Regions from separate parts of the Homo sapiens genome. Here region 2 is linked to region 1. Evidence: fine-mapped expression QTL. A gene starts in region 1. The other region holds a variant in brackets. All regions are shown on one strand. Distances are between the middles of the regions. Region 1 holds the start of WDR5B-DT (WDR5B divergent transcript). Region 2 overlaps KPNA1 (karyopherin subunit alpha 1).

What was found. PIP is the estimated chance that this variant, and not a neighbour inherited with it, causes the effect.
Region 2: its variant is fine-mapped to the expression of WDR5B-DT in whole blood (TOPMed, PIP above 0.99). The same link has a PIP of 0.9 or more in T cells, blood mononuclear cells, lung and nasal epithelium.

Annotation. Positions count from the first base shown.
Region 1 is chr3:122,412,958-122,420,957 of GRCh38, reverse strand. It overlaps WDR5B-DT (WDR5B divergent transcript), which reads right to left and starts at 4,752. Exons shown (of 3, transcript NR_125405.1): 1 at 4,708-4,752. WDR5B (WD repeat domain 5B) reads left to right here and starts at 4,896. Exons shown (of 1, transcript NM_019069.4): 1 at 4,896-8,000. The coding sequence starts at 5,430. The coding sequence ends at 6,422. RefSeq lists enhancers at 3,283-4,098, 4,202-4,401, 4,562-4,611, 4,642-4,881, 4,099-4,916 and 1 more.
Region 2 is chr3:122,438,570-122,447,105 of GRCh38, reverse strand. It overlaps KPNA1 (karyopherin subunit alpha 1), which reads left to right. Exons shown (of 14, transcript NM_002264.4): 10 at 4,990-5,068. WDR5B-DT (WDR5B divergent transcript) reads right to left here. Exons shown (of 3, transcript NR_125405.1): 3 at 3,859-4,379. Among named protein-coding and RNA genes, the nearest start is that of WDR5B-DT, 27 kb to the right of the region's middle. The variant C/T (reference allele first, on the strand shown) is at 4,589.

The sequences.
Region 1 (8,000 bases):
TAGCCAGCCATCGTACCACAAGCTTGCAATCCCAGCTACTCAAGAAGTCGAGGCAGGAGAATCGCTTGAATCCGGGAGGTGGAGGTTGCAGTGAGCCAAGATTGCACCACTGCACTCCAACCTGGCTGACAGAGCAAGACTCCATCTCAAAAAAAAAAAAAAAAAAAAAAAAAAAAATCACTGGGTTTACAAGTTTATTAAAGATAGCTTGAATGATTGTTGCCCCATTTCACTTGCATTTTGAAGGAGTCATTGTTTTCTCTAATTTTAAATTAATATACAGTCATTTCTGTGTTTTTTTGCAGAAAGTAAAATTACTCATTCTTATTCATATCCACTTAACCTGCAGAAGGCCAATGTAGTCCGCTGGGAGTCCTCAATAAGGATCACTGCTTTACCCATCACTTGGGCTGGGCATTATTAAGATACAGTGATGGGTAAGGAGAAAACAGAAACGCAAAAGACCGTAATGGGTGGTGAGAGAACAGTACCAGGTTTGGGAGAGACCTGCGCAGGCTGAGGTGTAAACTACCAGAGTGTGAAATGGTTGCAAGATTAAGTTACGATTATGAGGAGTGTCCTCTTGGGAAGTCAAAAGTAGTGTCTGCTGGGCACAGCCCCAGTTTACATTTGGAGATCAGCTAACACCTGTGAATTATTTTACTGCCCCCTTTCACTTTTAAAAATGTCCCAGTTTAGATAATGTTACGTGGCCACTCCATATTTATAAAGCCCAACTAGATTTTCATACATTGGCTAATGGTCTTAAGCAACTAGGTATACATAGTTCTATTAATGCTTGATATTGAGACTGGATTTGGTAGTCAAGAATTGCTATGAAGGATGTTGAGACATTCCTTAATGTGGGAATCACTCCCATGCCACGGTTTGGTCCAGCACACATACAAAAAAAAAATTGTTTTTAAATTTAAAAATTGCCCCATTTGTGGCAACACATCTGTTTAGATATTTACAATACTGAGGGGCAAGGGAAACACACCTTTAAACTATATTAAGATAAGAGACTTTCATTTCTTTTTTTTTTTTTTTTTTTTTTTTTTTTTTGAGACGGAGTCTCGCTCTGTCGCCCAGGCCGGACTGCGGACTGCAGTGGCGCAATCTCGGCTCACTGCAAGCTCCGCTTCCCGGGTTCACGCCATTCTCCTGCCTCAGCCTCCCGAGTAGCTGGGACTACAGGCGCCCGCCACCGCGCCCGGCTAATTTTTTGTATTTTTAGTAGAGACGGGGTTTCACCTTGTTAGCCAGGATGGTCTCGATCTCTTGACCTCATGATCCACCCGCCTCGGCCTCCCAAAGTGCTGGGATTACAGGCGTGAGCCACCGCGCCCGGCCTTCATTTCTAAGATGTCTGGGAAATTTAAAGAAATCTAGTTGATTTCTGTAGGGAGGAAACTTCCAAAGCACTTAGATGGTAAAGATTAAGGGCAGCAGAAATAGAAACTGTTAATGAGACCATGTAAGAAATTTTGCTTGGTCAACCCGGGCAATGTAGTGAAACTCTGTCTCTACAAAGGGTTGTTGTTGTTTTTTTTTTTTTTGAGATGAAGTCTCGCTCTTGTCCCTCAGGCTAGAGTGTGATGGCACAATCTCGGCTCACTGCAACCTCCGCCTCCTGGGTTCAAGCGATTCTCCTGCCTCAGCCCCCTGAGTAGCTGGGATTACAGGCGCCTGCCACCACGCCCGGCTAATTTTTGTATTTTTAGTTGAGAAGGGGCTTCACCATGTTGGCCAGGCTGGTCTAGAACTCCTGACCTCAGGTGATCCACCCGCCTCGGCCTCGCAAAGTGCTGGGATTACAGGCGTGAGCCATAGTGCCCAGCCAACAAGGTATTTTAAAAAGTAGCCGGGCATGGTGGCGGGTGCCTGTGGGAGGCTGAGGTGGGAGGATCGCCTGAGCCCTGGCAACGCTGCAGTGAACTGAGATGGCACCACTGCACTCCAGCCTGGGCGACAAGGGCAAAACTCCGTCTCATAAATAAATTAATAAGTAAATAAGAAACCCAAAATGCGTATCTCTTATTCTGCCACTTTGGATTTACCTACATGTATCAGTATTCAGCAAAACTCCGTCTCATAAATGAATAAATAAGGAACCCAAAATGCAAATCTCTGTTCTGCCACTTCGGATTTACCTGTATCAGTATTCCGTGCTCCTGCACCGAAATGTCGCTGATCCTCCCAAGCAAGTAAACTGAAAATCTTAGTTCTAATTTCCTAAGGACTACAATGTTAGGACTACATGTTAATATCAGAACATGAATGAATAAACAATAGAACATAACTAGTTATATTCGCCAGGCGCGGTGGCTCACGCTTGTAATCCCAGCACTTTGGGAGGCCGAGGCGGGCGGATCACCTGAGGTCGGGAGTTCAAGACCAGCCTGGCCAACATGGAGAAACCCTGACTCTACTAAAAATACAAAATTAGCCGGGCATGGTGGCGCATGCCTGTAATCCCAGTTACCCGGGAGGCTGAGGCAGGAGAATCGCTTGAACCAGGGAGATGGAGATTGCAGTGAGCTGAGATCGCGCCACTGCACTCCAGCCTGGGCAACAAGAGCGAAACTCTGTCTCAAAAAAAAAAAAAACTAGTTATATTCATAGCCTTGATTTTGTTTGCATATGTTCCTAATGCTATTTGTAAACAAATCCCAGACATCAAGAAATGGATTTTGTTAATAGGAATTTCTTCAGATTTTAGGAAAATCTGAAGAAAAATAACTTCCGGATCTTCCTATCAACACATCCTTTATTGTGTCCCCCCCTCTCTCTTGCTTGTGATAGCTGTGGTGGGCTAAATATATTCCAGCACTAATACCCTATCCTAGCCTTCATGTCAAGTGTTCACGATTCTTAAATTTTACTCTTCTAGTGCATACAACAGTTACTGGAAAATGCAGATTTAAATTATTTGAAACAATGATTAAATTCTGCTCCTGTGCTCCAAGGGGCTTTTACGTTACCTTTTATTGAGTTAATAAAAATGGAAATAGTTTTCAATTGGTGCAGTTTCTAAACTTCTCAGCAAAAATCACTAATCCAGGCTAATGGGAAGAGAAAAGCAGCAGCAGGGTTTAGTTAGAACTGAACTTTAAGATATGCTGAAGGAAAAAAAATTTCTAAAAGTGTTAACAAGGGGAGGTCCATGGAGACCTTAATAGCTAAAAACCGTTGTAATTTAATGTATAGAAATAAATACTCTAAACCATTTTAGAGTCTTCATTCTCAGGACTACCTCACTGTGTTTATACAGTTAATATGCACTAGCTAAGACTAAAGTATTTGTCCAATTCTTATTTAAATTTCCCCCTAGACTGGTAGGGTCTTAAAGTAATGATATTTTAACTACAGTCGGTTTATTACAGGTGACCTAACGGTGCCTGTTGTGCCTTATAAAGGCCAAGACTTTCAATTATCCCTAATAAGTATACAATAGGATACCCATTGTTTCCAAGTGCTTTTAAATTCTTGACGCTGATGAGACATTTGCATCGTGACCAGCCACCAGTAAAATCTTTTAAGCCACGTTTTTTCTGCTTTTCTTGGGCACTCTTTTTTTTTTTTTTTTTGAGACGGAGTCTCACTGTTGCCCAGGCTGGAGTGCACTGGTGGAATCTCAGCTTACTGCACCCTCCACCTCCTGGTTCATGCCATTCTCCCACCTCAGCCTCCTGAGTAGCTGGGACTACAGGCGTGCGCCATCACGCGCAGCTAATTTTTGTATTTTTAGCAGTATTGGTTGCGCCATGTTGGTCAGGCTGGTCTCGGACACCCGACCTAAAGTGTCCCGCCCGACTGGGCCTCCCAAAGTGCTGGGATTACAGGCGTGAGTGCTCGGCCTCGGGCACTCTTTACTGAGCAACAACAGGTTGGAGAAACTAGTAGGGCTTCCAGTTTTTTGGTAAACCTATTGTTTAAAAGTCTGCCTGGTCATCAGATTCCAGTCGTCTTGTTTCTGCCTCAGATGATAAAACTCTAAAATTATAGGATGTGAGATCTGGAAAATGTTTGAAAACACTAAAGGGGCACAGTAATTATGTCTTTCGTTGCAACTTCAATAGCATGTATATTTTACACACTTTCATGACCATTAATCATCTCCTAAAACTGGGGAAAGCTCTCTAAAACCTCCTTAAGAGTAACCTTATCCGTTACCCTATTCCACCAACCTCTTTGTCCTTTTCTGTTTCAAGCAACTTTGAGATACCGACTTCTCTATGGAAGCTTAAGCCGTAGATGCTAAAACAAACGTTTGCTCGTTACTCCCAGCAGAGCACCGGCTTTTAAAGGACCTCAACAGACACGTTTCTTAACCTTTACGAAACTTTTCCAGGGGAAACTTAAACCAGGAATTTTACAATCTGGCATAAATTCTGTCACCCGCCCCGTGACTCCATCGCCACACATGCCACCTGGCTCCACACCACAACAAACAGGAGGGAGCGGAACCCATGCAAAGCAGGAGCTTCCCCCGTTTCCGGCGTCTGGGTGGATCTACGTTAGCTGCCGTTTAGGCAGCTTACGCGTCAGGTGTGGGCCTAAGCCTGCAGCTAAGGTAGGCATCCGCAAATCTAGTCCTTCTCTGTGACAATTTCCAAAAAGAAATGGTTTTTGAAACAACGATCCACTGCTTCCCACACTATCCAGTTAGGTCCGGGACAGACCCTACCCAGCTAATGCACTCACCCAAGAAGGCAGTCGCTTTCGCATTTGAAGGGCGGGGCGAAAAAGACCGGAAATGAACATTGGCGACTTTTTTGCGCAGGCGCAGATGGCCGTCTCCCATTGGTCATCTCGGCTCGGTAGTGGTAGGAGGGACTTCCTTTGCACATGCGCCAGGCTGCTTTTCCGGCTTTGTTGGAGATTGACGCGGCAGTGCACACCTGCTGGTACGAGCAAAAGTAGCCGACAGGCCAGAGTTTCCAGTTTCGGTGGCTTCGTAGGCTTTTAGCTTCTGAAATCCGCTAAAAGCGGCGGTTCATTCATCTTCAAGTACCTAGCCTGACTGGTAGGGCTGCTCAGCATTCCGAAACATTTCGACCTGGGGAGGGGGGCGGCGGTGAAAGAATACTTTCTGTAGAGAGTGCCCCTCGCGTCGCCCCTGCTTTGAAGGCTTTATGTATTAACGGAATGCCGAACATTTGTGTCCTACTTGCTGACAGCGCACAGGATCCTTCTAACAGTATTTCTCAAGTACTTAACAAAAAGATGAAAACTTGAAGTCCAAGCCGTGCTGCTGATTCCGTCTCACAGTTTAAAGACTGTCCAGAAACTTTAAGCTTTCAAAACTGTACATTTTAAAATCCTGTGCGTTTATCTTCATTTTGCTGGGCAGAAAGCCAAAGTACTGGACTGCCTGGTTCAGGGCTGAACGCCTAGTACACCTGCTAACTTGGAGCTTCAGAGCCATGGCAACCAAGGAGTCAAGAGACGCCAAAGCACAGTTGGCCCTCTCCTCATCGGCCAATCAGAGCAAGGAAGTGCCTGAAAACCCAAACTATGCTCTCAAATGTACTCTTGTGGGACACACGGAAGCAGTGTCATCAGTTAAGTTTAGTCCTAATGGAGAATGGCTAGCAAGTTCTTCTGCTGATAGGCTAATCATAATTTGGGGAGCATATGATGGAAAATATGAGAAAACACTCTATGGTCATAATTTGGAAATATCGGATGTTGCCTGGTCATCAGATTCCAGTCGTCTTGTTTCTGCCTCAGATGATAAAACTCTAAAATTATGGGATGTGAGATCTGGAAAATGTTTGAAAACACTGAAGGGGCACAGTAATTATGTCTTTTGTTGTAACTTCAATCCGCCATCCAACCTTATAATCTCGGGATCTTTTGATGAGACTGTAAAAATATGGGAGGTGAAAACAGGAAAGTGTCTCAAGACTTTGTCTGCTCATTCTGACCCAGTTTCTGCTGTTCATTTTAATTGTAGTGGGTCCTTGATAGTGTCAGGTAGCTATGATGGCCTCTGTAGAATCTGGGATGCTGCATCAGGTCAGTGTTTAAAAACGCTCGTTGATGACGATAACCCTCCTGTCTCTTTTGTAAAATTTTCTCCAAATGGTAAATACATTCTCACTGCAACTTTGGACAACACTCTTAAACTATGGGATTATAGCAGAGGCAGGTGCCTGAAAACATACACTGGTCATAAGAATGAGAAATATTGCATATTTGCCAATTTTTCAGTTACTGGTGGAAAGTGGATTGTGTCTGGTTCCGAGGATAACCTGGTTTACATTTGGAACCTTCAGACTAAAGAGATTGTGCAGAAATTACAAGGCCATACAGATGTTGTGATCTCAGCAGCTTGTCATCCTACAGAAAACCTCATCGCATCAGCAGCATTAGAAAATGACAAAACAATTAAACTGTGGATGAGTAACCACTAATCCCTTTGAAAATCAAGTAGTAGAGCCAAGTTGGCCAAAAAACTTGGATATTTAAAAAGACGGTTTCTTTTAATTTTGGCAGTTTGGTATTTTAAAAATTGTCTATTGTTAAATTTTGAGATTCATACACTACATTTACAAAATGAGATAGTTGAAAAAGCACATCTAGAATTCAGCTTCTGACTACCAATCTTTTTTGAGCAACTTTTTGTAATTTTTATGGATTTATGTCACTTTTATTACAGGGATATATTGCATAGTGGTGAAATCTGGGCTTAGTATACCCTCACCCAAATAGTATACATTGTACCTAGTAAATACTTTCCCATCTCTCACCCCACTCCCACCTTTGAAGGCTCTAGTGTCTATGATTCTGCTCTCCACGTCCAGGTGTACACATTGTTTATCTCCCACTTACGAGAACATGTGGTTTTTGACTTTCTGTATCATTACTTCACTTAATGGCCTCCAGGTCCATCCATGTTGTTGCAAAAGATAAGATTTCATTATTTTTTTTTGGCTGAGTAGTATTCTGTGGTGTGTATGTGTGTGTGTGTATGCATATATGTGTATGTGTATGTATATAAGTATATACACCACATTATCCAGTCATCTGGATATGTATATAAGTATATACACCACATTTTCTTTATCCAGTCATCTCTTGATGGACCCTTAGGTTGGTTCCATAACTTTGCTATTACGAATAGTGCTGCGATAAACAGCACTATTATGAATAGTGCTGCGATAAACAGTGCAGGTGATTTTAAAATATAATTTCCTTTGGGTAGATACCTACTAGTGGGATTGCTGGATCGAATGGTAGTTTTTAGTTGGAAAATCTCCATACTGTTTTCCAGAGGTTGTAAAATGTACATTCCTCCCCACAGTGTATAAGCTGTGCCTTTACTCTGCATCTTTGCCATGATTCTTTTTGAGACAGAGTCTCTGGTGCCCAGGCTGGAGTGCAGTGGCACAATCTTGGCTCACTGCAACCTCTGCCTCCCGGGTTCAAGCAGTTCTCATGTCTCAACATCCCAGGTAGCTAGGATTACAGGCGTGCCACCATGCCTGGCTAATGTTTCTATTTTTAGTAGAGACAGGGTTTCACCATGTTCGAGGCTGGTCTTGAACTCCTGGCCTCAAGTGATCCACCTGCCTCGGCCTCCCAAAGTGCTGGGATTACAGGCATGAGCCACTGTACCCAGCCATTTTTTGACTTTTTAATAATAGCCATTCTAACTGGTTTAAGAGAGTATCTCATTGTGGTTATATTTTGTATTCCTCTGATGATTAGTGATGTTGAGCATTTTTTTGTGTGTGTTTGTTGGCCACTTGTATGTCTTCTTTGAAAACTGACTTCTAATCTTGAGGCCTATTAATAATTTCATTTGTCTGTCACTGGACAATTTCTCATTCCTCTCAGTGACTATCCTAGAGGATCAGTGTATTTGAGAAATATTTAGAAGTAAAGTTGACAGGACAGGATGATTGATTAAAAGAGGGGAGCAAGGGAATTTGAAATAATTCCAGGGTTTCTGGTTTGGGAGATCAGATGAACAAGTGCATAAGCCTGGG
Region 2 (8,536 bases), 26 kb before region 1:
CCAGCTCCTCTTTGTACCTCTGGTAGAACTTGGCTGTGAATCCATCTGGTCCTGGGCTTTTTTTGGTTGGTAGGCTATTAATTACTGCCTCAATTTCAGAGCCTGTTATTGGTCTATTCAAGGATTCAACTTCTTCCTGGTTTAGTCTTGGGAGGGTGTATGTGTCCAGGAATGTATCCATTTCTTCTAGATTTTCTAGTTTATTTGTGTAGAGGTGTTGATAGTATTCTCTGATGGTAGTTTGTATTTCTGTGGGATCGGTGGTGATATCCCCTTTATCATTTTTTATTGCATCTATTTGATTCTTTTCTCTTTTCTTTATTAGTCTTGCTAGCGGTCTATCAATTTTGTTGATCTTTTCAAAACACCAGCTCCTGGATTCATTTATTTTTTTGAAGGGTTTTTTGTGTCTGTATCTCTTTCAGTTCTGCTCTGATCTTAGTTATTTCTTGCCTTCTGCTAACTTTTGAATTTGTTTGCTCTTGCTTCTCTAGTTCTTTTAATGGTGATGTTGGGTGTTGATTTTAGATCTTTCCTGCTTTCTCTTGTGGGCATTTAGTGCTATAAATTTCCCTCTACACACTGCTTTAAATGTGTCCCAGAGATTCTGGTATGTTGTGTCTTTGTTTTCATTGGTTTCAAAGAACATCTTTATTTCTGCCTTCATTTCGTTATTTACCCAGTAGTCATTCAGGATCAGGTTGTTCAGTTTCCATGTAGTTGTGCGGTTTTGAGTGAGTTTCTTAATCCTGAGTTCTAATTTGATTGCACTCTGGTCTGAAAGACAGTTTGTTGTGATTTCTGTTCTTTTACATTTGCTGAGCAGTGTTTTACTTCCAATTATGTGGTCAGTTTTAGAATAAGTACAATGTGGTGCTGAGAAGAGTGTATATTTTGTTGATTTGGGGTGGAGAGTTCTGTAGATGTTTATTAGGTCCACTTGGTGCAGAGCTGAGTTCAAGTCCTGGATATCCTTGTTAACCTTCTGTCGTGTTGATCTGTCTAATATTGACAGTGGGGTGTTAAAGTCTCCCATTATTATTGCGTGGGAGTGTAAGTCTCTTTGTAGGTCTCCAAGGACTTGGTTTATGAATCTGGGTGCTCCTGTATTGGGTGCATATATATTTAGGATAGTTAGCTCTTCTTGTTGAATTGATCCCTTTACCATTATGTAATGGCTTTCTTTGTCTCTTTTGATCTTTGTTGGTTTAAAGTTTGTTTTATCAGAGACTAGGATTGCAACCCCTGCTTTTTTTTTGCTTTCCATGTGCTTTGTACATCTTCCTCCATCCCTTTATTTTGAGCCTATGTGTGTCTCTGCACGTGAGATGGGTCTCCTGAATATAGCACACTGATGGGTCTTGACTCTTTATCCAATTTGCCAGTCTGTGTCTTTTAATTGGGGCATTTAACCCATTTACAATTAAGGTTATTATTGTTATGTGTGAATTTCATTTTATCATTATGATGTTAGCTGGTTAATTTGCCCGTTAACTGATGCAGTTTCTTCCCAGCATTGATGGTCTTTACAATTTGGCATGTTTTTGCAGTGGCTGGTACCGGTTGTTCCTTTCCATGTTTAGTGCTTCCTTCAGGAGCTCTTGCAAGGCAGGCCTGGTGGTGACAAACTCTGTCAGCATTTGCTTGTCTGTAAAGGATTTTATTTCTCCTTCACTTATGAAGCTTAGTTTGGCTGGATATGACATTCTTGGTTGAAAACTCTTTTGAAAACTCTTCTTTTTACTCTTTTTTCTCTAATCTTGTCTTCACACTTTATTTCATTAATTTGATCTTCAGTCACTGATATCCTTTCTTCCACTTGATTGAATCGGCTATTGAAGCTTGTGCATACGTCACGAAGTTCTTGTGCCATGGTTTTCAGCTCCATCAGGTCTTTTAAGCTCTTCTCTACACTGTTTATTCTAGTTAGCCGTTGGTCTAACCTTTGTTCAAGGTTTTTAGCTTCCTTGCAATGGGTTAGAACATGCTCCTTTAGCCCAGAGAAGTTAGTTATTACCGACCTTCTGAAGCCTACTTCTGTCAACTCGTCAAAGTTATTCTCCGTCCAGCTTTGTTCTGTTGCTGGCGAGAAGCTGCGATCTTTTGGAGGAAAACAGGCGCTCTGGTTTTTAGAATTTTCAGCTTTTCTGCTCTGGTTTCTCCCCATCTTTGTGGTTTTATCTACCTTTGGTCTTCGATATTGGTGACCTACAGATGAGGTTTTGGTGTGGGTGTCCTTTTTGTTGATGTTGATGCTATTCCTTTCTGCTTATTCGTTTTCCTTCTAACAGTCAGTTCCCTCAGCTGCAGGTCTGTTGGAGTTTGCTGGAGGTCCACTCCAGACCCTGTTTTCCTGGATTACCAGCAGAGGCCACAGAACAGCAAATATTGCAGAACAGCAAATATTGCTGCCTGATATTTTCTCTGGAAGCTTCGTCCCAGAGGGGCACCCGCCTGTATGAGGTGTCTCTCGGCCCCTACTTGGAGGTGTCTCCCAGTTAGGCAGGAAGTCAGGGACCCTGAATGGAAGGACCGGCTGAAGCCATGGCAGAAGGACATAAATTGTAAAGATTTCATGGACATTTATTAGTTCCCCAAATTAATACTTTTATAATTTCTTACGCGTGTCTACTGCAGTCTCTGAACATAAATCGTGAAGATTTCATGGACATTTATCACTTCCCCAGTCAATACTCTTATAATTTCCTATGCCTGTCTTTAATCTCTTAATCCTGTCATCTTCATAAGCTGAGGATGTATGTTGCCTCAGGGTCCTGTGATGATTGCATTATGTGTACAAATTGTTTGTGAAAGGTGTGTTTGAACAGTATGAAATCTGGGCATTCTAAAAGAACAAGATAACAGTGATTTTCAGGGAACAAGGGAGATAACCATAAGGTCTGACTGCCTGCGGGGCTGGGCAGAACAGAATCATATTTCTCTTCTTGCAAAAGCGAATAGGAGAAATAGCGCTCAGTTCTTTTTCTCAGCAAGGAACAGCCCTGGGAAAAGAATGCATTCCCAGGGGGCGGCCTCTAAAATGGCCGCTCTGGGAGTGTCTGTCTTTTGCAGTTGAAGATAAGGCATAAAATACGCCCTGGTCTCCTTCAGTGCCCTCAGGCTTGCTAGGATTAGGAAATTCCAGCCTGGCGAATTCTAGTCAGACCGGTTTTCTGCTCTAGAAAACACTGTTTCTTGTTAAGATGTTTATCAGTGACAATGGGTGTACAGTGGGACATGAAACCTCATCAGCAGTTCTAATCTCACCCTGGCCTTGTGATCTTGCTCTGCCCCCATTTTCCTTGTGATATTTTATTGCCTTTTGAAGCATGTGATCTCTGTGACCCACACCCTATTCGTACACTCCCTCCCCTTTGAAAATCGCTAATAAAATATTGCTGGTTTTGTGGCTTGGGAGCATCACGGAACCTGCCGACATGTGATGTCACCCCCGGAGACTCAGGTGTAAAATTTCTCTCTTTTGTACTCTTTCTCTTTATTTCTTAGACTGGCCAACACTTAGAGAAAATAGAAAAGAACCTACATTGAAATATTGGGGGCTGGTTCCCCCAATAGGCTACACGGGGTTCAGGGACCCACTTGAGGAGGTAGTCTGTCCATTCTCAGAGCTCAAACACCATGCTGGGAGAACCACTGCTCTCTTCAGAGCTGTCAGACAGGGACGTTTACATCTGTAGAAGTTGTCTGCTGCCTTTTGTTCAGCCTATGCCCTGCCCCCAGAGGTGGAGTGTATAGAGATAGTAGGCCTTGCTGAGGTGCGGTGGGATCCACCCATTTCGAGCTTTCTGGCTGCTTTGTTTACCTACTCAAGCCCCAGCAATGGCAGACGCCCCTCCCCCCGCCAGGCTGCAGCCTTGCAGGTCGATCTCCAGCTGCTGCGCTAGCAGTGAGCAAGGCTGCATGGGCATGGGACCCGCTGAGCCAGGCATGGGAGAGCAATCTCCTCGTCTGCCATTTGCTAAGACTGTGGGAAAAGCACAGTGTTTGGGCGGGGTGTACTGATTTTCCATGTACAGTCTGTCACAGCTTCCCTTGGCTAGGAAAGGAAAATCCCCCGACCCATTGTGCTTCCTGGGTGAGGCGACGCCCTGTCATGCTTCACCTTGCCCTCCGTGGGCTGCACCCACTGTCCAACCAGTCCCAGTGAGATGAATCAGGTACCTCAGTTGGTGATGCAGAAATCACCCGTCTTCTGCGTCGATCACTCTGGGAGCTGCAGACCAGAGCTGTTCCTATTCAGCTATCTTGGAACGGAACCCAGCCATTTCTTTTTAATCATCACATGTTAAATTTGAAGGAACTGGCTTAGTTTTTAGAAGAGTGATCGGTCTCATTAAAGTGGAGGGAAAAATAGGACCCTTAAGGAAAATCAAAAGATAGTGACTTAATTTAGCTAGAAATAAGGACTTAATATCTGTCTTCAAATATATATATATGGCTTTGTGGAGTGGTTTTTGGACCAGTAAGGCAGCTTATTTAGTAAGTTTAGTTGAAAGACCTTTGTATTTAGAGTGTGACTCCTGACTTGCATTTTCAAGTTAGTTCAGCTGTTGATGTGTCACTTTTA[C/T]GTCTGAAAATTAAGACAATTTATAAAACTTAAAAATGTTGCGTAAATGTTAATTATTGCTCTCAATTATCTCAGCAACCATACAAAAGCCAGTAAAGAGGAAATGAAACCTATACTAAAGAATGAGAGGGAAAAGTTGGAATCCAGGTGATGGAATACCTGGGAAAGATTCCTAGGAAAGATTGGTAGTTTTTTCCAAATGTACTAAAATAAGGGGAAAGACAGTTCTAGGGAACACCAGACATTCCATCATCATGATAAGCGTTCCCTTAATTAGCCCCATGGGTACATTTCTGCTCTAAAATTCTATCACAATTTTTTTGTTTTTTAATTTTGGTCTTGGAAGGAAATGAAACTAAGGATAGAACTGTTTGCTATAACATTACTTTTTGTTTTTGCAGGCATAATGATTATAAAGTGGTTTCTCCTGCTTTGCGAGCTGTGGGAAACATTGTCACAGGGGATGATATTCAGACACAGGTATGAAGAAGTGGTAACTTTTTTTTGTCCTTTAAAAACAGTATATTGAACTTCATGATCATGTTTCTATTATCGTATTTTACTCCATATTATTAGGGAAACTTGATACTCTGTTACACTAATGTTTAAAAATGTTGGGCCGGGGGCGGTCACTCACGCCTGTAATCCCAGCACTTTGGGAGACTGAGGCGGACGGATTGCCTGAGCTCAGGAGTTCGACACCAGCCTGGGCAACATGGTGAAACCTCATCTCTACTAAAAATACAAAAAATTAGCCGGGCGTGGTTGCACACGCCTGTAGTTCCAGCTACTTGGAGGCTGAGGTAGAAGAATCGCTTGAACCCAGGAGGTAGAGGTTGCAGTGAGCCGAGATCGCACCACTGCACTCCAGCCTGGGCAACAGAGTGAGACTCCAGCTCAAAGAAAAAAAAAAAAGTTGGTTTAGGCATCTACTCTCAATACCTTTAGTATCTCTGACTTGACCTGTTGCTTGTAGTAGTTTGGGGTTGTCCTATGATAGTGACTATTTTTTGGTCAGGCAGATTTGTTTTTCTTCACTCCTATTTGAAATAGTTCTCATGGGCATCAGAATCCTCTAGTAGCATCTTTTCTCTGTCTTTTTCATCTCAATATCACCTTCTCTGATAGCTTTCTCCTTTTGTACATGGTAAGTCCCCTGTGTGAGGAAGATTCTTCCCTCCTACTTTCTAATGTCACCATCTACTCTATTCAACTTCTGTATCAAGACACACCATTCACAGTGCATTGTTCTAGCCATATTTCTTCCTGAAATCTCAGCTGTGTTGTGATGTTGAAGTCTTTTAGTTCTTCTGCCTCATCGACCATTTATTTCTCCCTAGCAAGCTCCTTTTCCTCTTGTCTCCTTTTGTGGACATCTTCCACGGGGCAATCCTTCTGCCTCATTCATAGATCTTATTTATAATGTCAGTGATTACCCTTGTGTGCATGGATTCAGAATTGGGAATTGGGTTTTAGCCTTAGCGTTTTCTTCACCAGTTCTGACTTTCAGCAATACATTTAATGCCTTTTCTAATCTCTAAAATTAAGGAGATTAGATTTGTTCTCTCAGGTGTCTTCTAACTGTAATGTATTTACTTTAAATATATTCTGTACACAAGGGAACTCATTTCCCCTTGCATTACCTGAACCTCTGCTTATGTTCCCTGTATCAGTGAATGGCACCATCAGTTCCCCTGAAACCTGGACATCAGCTTGATTCTTTCCTCTCCTCCAACTCCATCATCAGTTACTAAGTCCTGTTGTTCTGTCTCTATTCATCCTTTGCAGGGCTTAGTTCAGACACTTCAGAAGAGAATAGGAGAAGAAAAGAATATATGTTTGACTATATTTGCATAAAATTTCTCTGGAAGGATATACAGGGAACTGAAAATGTTGGTTGTCTTTGAGGGGAACTGGTTGGCTGGGATACAAGAAGGGGAAAGAGGCTTTTAACAACTATGGAGTCTTTTATACCCTCTGAATTTTTGAACCCTATCAGTATCTTTCTGTCCCTCACCCACCTCCATATGCTGTATGCTTTTGCCATATTTGTTCCTTGAATTGGCTGTGGCCACTCTCAGCTCAGAGTTTTAACGCATGCTTTATTCCCTCTGCCTGGAACATGTGTCTCCACTGCTACCCCTTGCTCTGACTGCCACCTCACACATATCCACATTCTCTGCTCCTAATGTTTTCTTGTTCTTCAAGTCTTGGTATTAACATTATTTTCTCTGAGAAGCCCTGTTTGACCCTAAACTCTTAAGTTAGGTACTTATTTTTTTTTCTTTATCCATCAGAATATTAATCACATTGTATTGTAACTAATTACTAGATTTTAAGATTCTAGAGGTGGATTATGTCAGTGTTTATTTCTGTGCCTCTGTAAATCTAATAATTTCTGGCACAATATATAGGGACTTAAAGAATATTTATTGAATGCAATGAAGTTCTGAATCTCTACATCTACTTCTGACCTATCTCAAGTTTCAGTCCTATATCTGCAGTAGTTTCTTACATATTTCTGCTTGCATATCTCACGTTTGTCTCACAGTATATCTTCTTTCCCCCACAAGGCAAGTTCCAAGTTTTTATTTTTCCTATTTCAGGTAATGATATAACTATTCTCTTTACCTACACATGAAACTTTGCAGTTACATGTGGTGTCTCCCTCCCTTATAGTTTGTATAGCAAGTTGCTGGGTCTTCTTGATTGTTATTGTTACTAGATCCCCATCAAATTACGTACTTTTGGTCCTTGTCACACACACAGGTTGTTGCTGTACCCATCCATCCTCCGACTGTCCTAAGCAGTTACTCTTCTCAATTTATTCCCCCTAATAACAGCTGAATCTTTCCTAAAGTAATGTTATTTGCATTATCTTCCTCTAGAAATAATAAGCTGCTTTAGTGCCTGTAAGATAAAGAAACTTGAAAGATTCAAAGGAATTTCTCCTTAAGATTTTAGTCTCATTCTTCTTTCTAGCCTATTATTTTTGGGGCATAGAACTCTTTTGTAATAGCCTCATCATGGCCAGGTATGCTGGCTCATGCTTGTATTCCTAGCTTTTTGAGAGGCTGAGGTGAGAGAATTGCCTGAGCCCAGGAGTTCCAAACCAGCCCATGCAATATAGCAAGACCCCATCTCTAAAAACATTTTTTTTTAATTAGCTGAGCATGATGGAATGTAACTGTAGTCCTACCTACTCTACTCAGGAGGCTGAGGCAGGAGGATTGCTTGCACCCAGGAGTTTGAGGTTGCAGTGAGCTATGATCATGCCACCACACTCCAGCCTTAGTGATAGAACGAGACTATGTTTCTTAAAATAAAATAGCCTCAGTAGTCTGTTCTTACAGTACTTTGTAATAGCTTGTCTCTGCATTTTTTCATTTCTAGCTTATGTGCAGTGTCAGTCCCTCTTTTTGCTAATGAAATCCTATTGCCTATTTAATAGGCATAAAAGACTTCATTTTAATTTGCATTTCTTTCATTACTTAGGAGATAATTTTCTATTAAAATTTTAGTTTCTCTTTTCAGTTTACACATAGCAACCCTCTCATTTGTTGCAAATATTTTTCACAGTGGATGGTGTACATTTAAAATCTGTTACGATTTTTGACATGAAAACATGTTTCATGAAATTTTTATTTTCCCCTATAATTTCTTTATTTTTATGCTCATACATACAGTCTTTTACCATCCCCAAGTCAGCTATTTTCTAATATTCTGCTTTATGATTTCTTTTAAAAATATTTACTCTTAAGTAGTTGCAAATTTATTTTGGTGACTTAGGGTTTATATTAGTCTGTTATTTCATTGCTATAAAGAAATACCTGGCCGAGCGTGGTGGCTCCTGCCTGTAATCCCAGCACTTTGGGAGGCTGAGGTAGGTGGATCACATGAGGTCGGGAGTTCAAGACCAGCCTGACCAACATGGAGAAACCCTGTCTC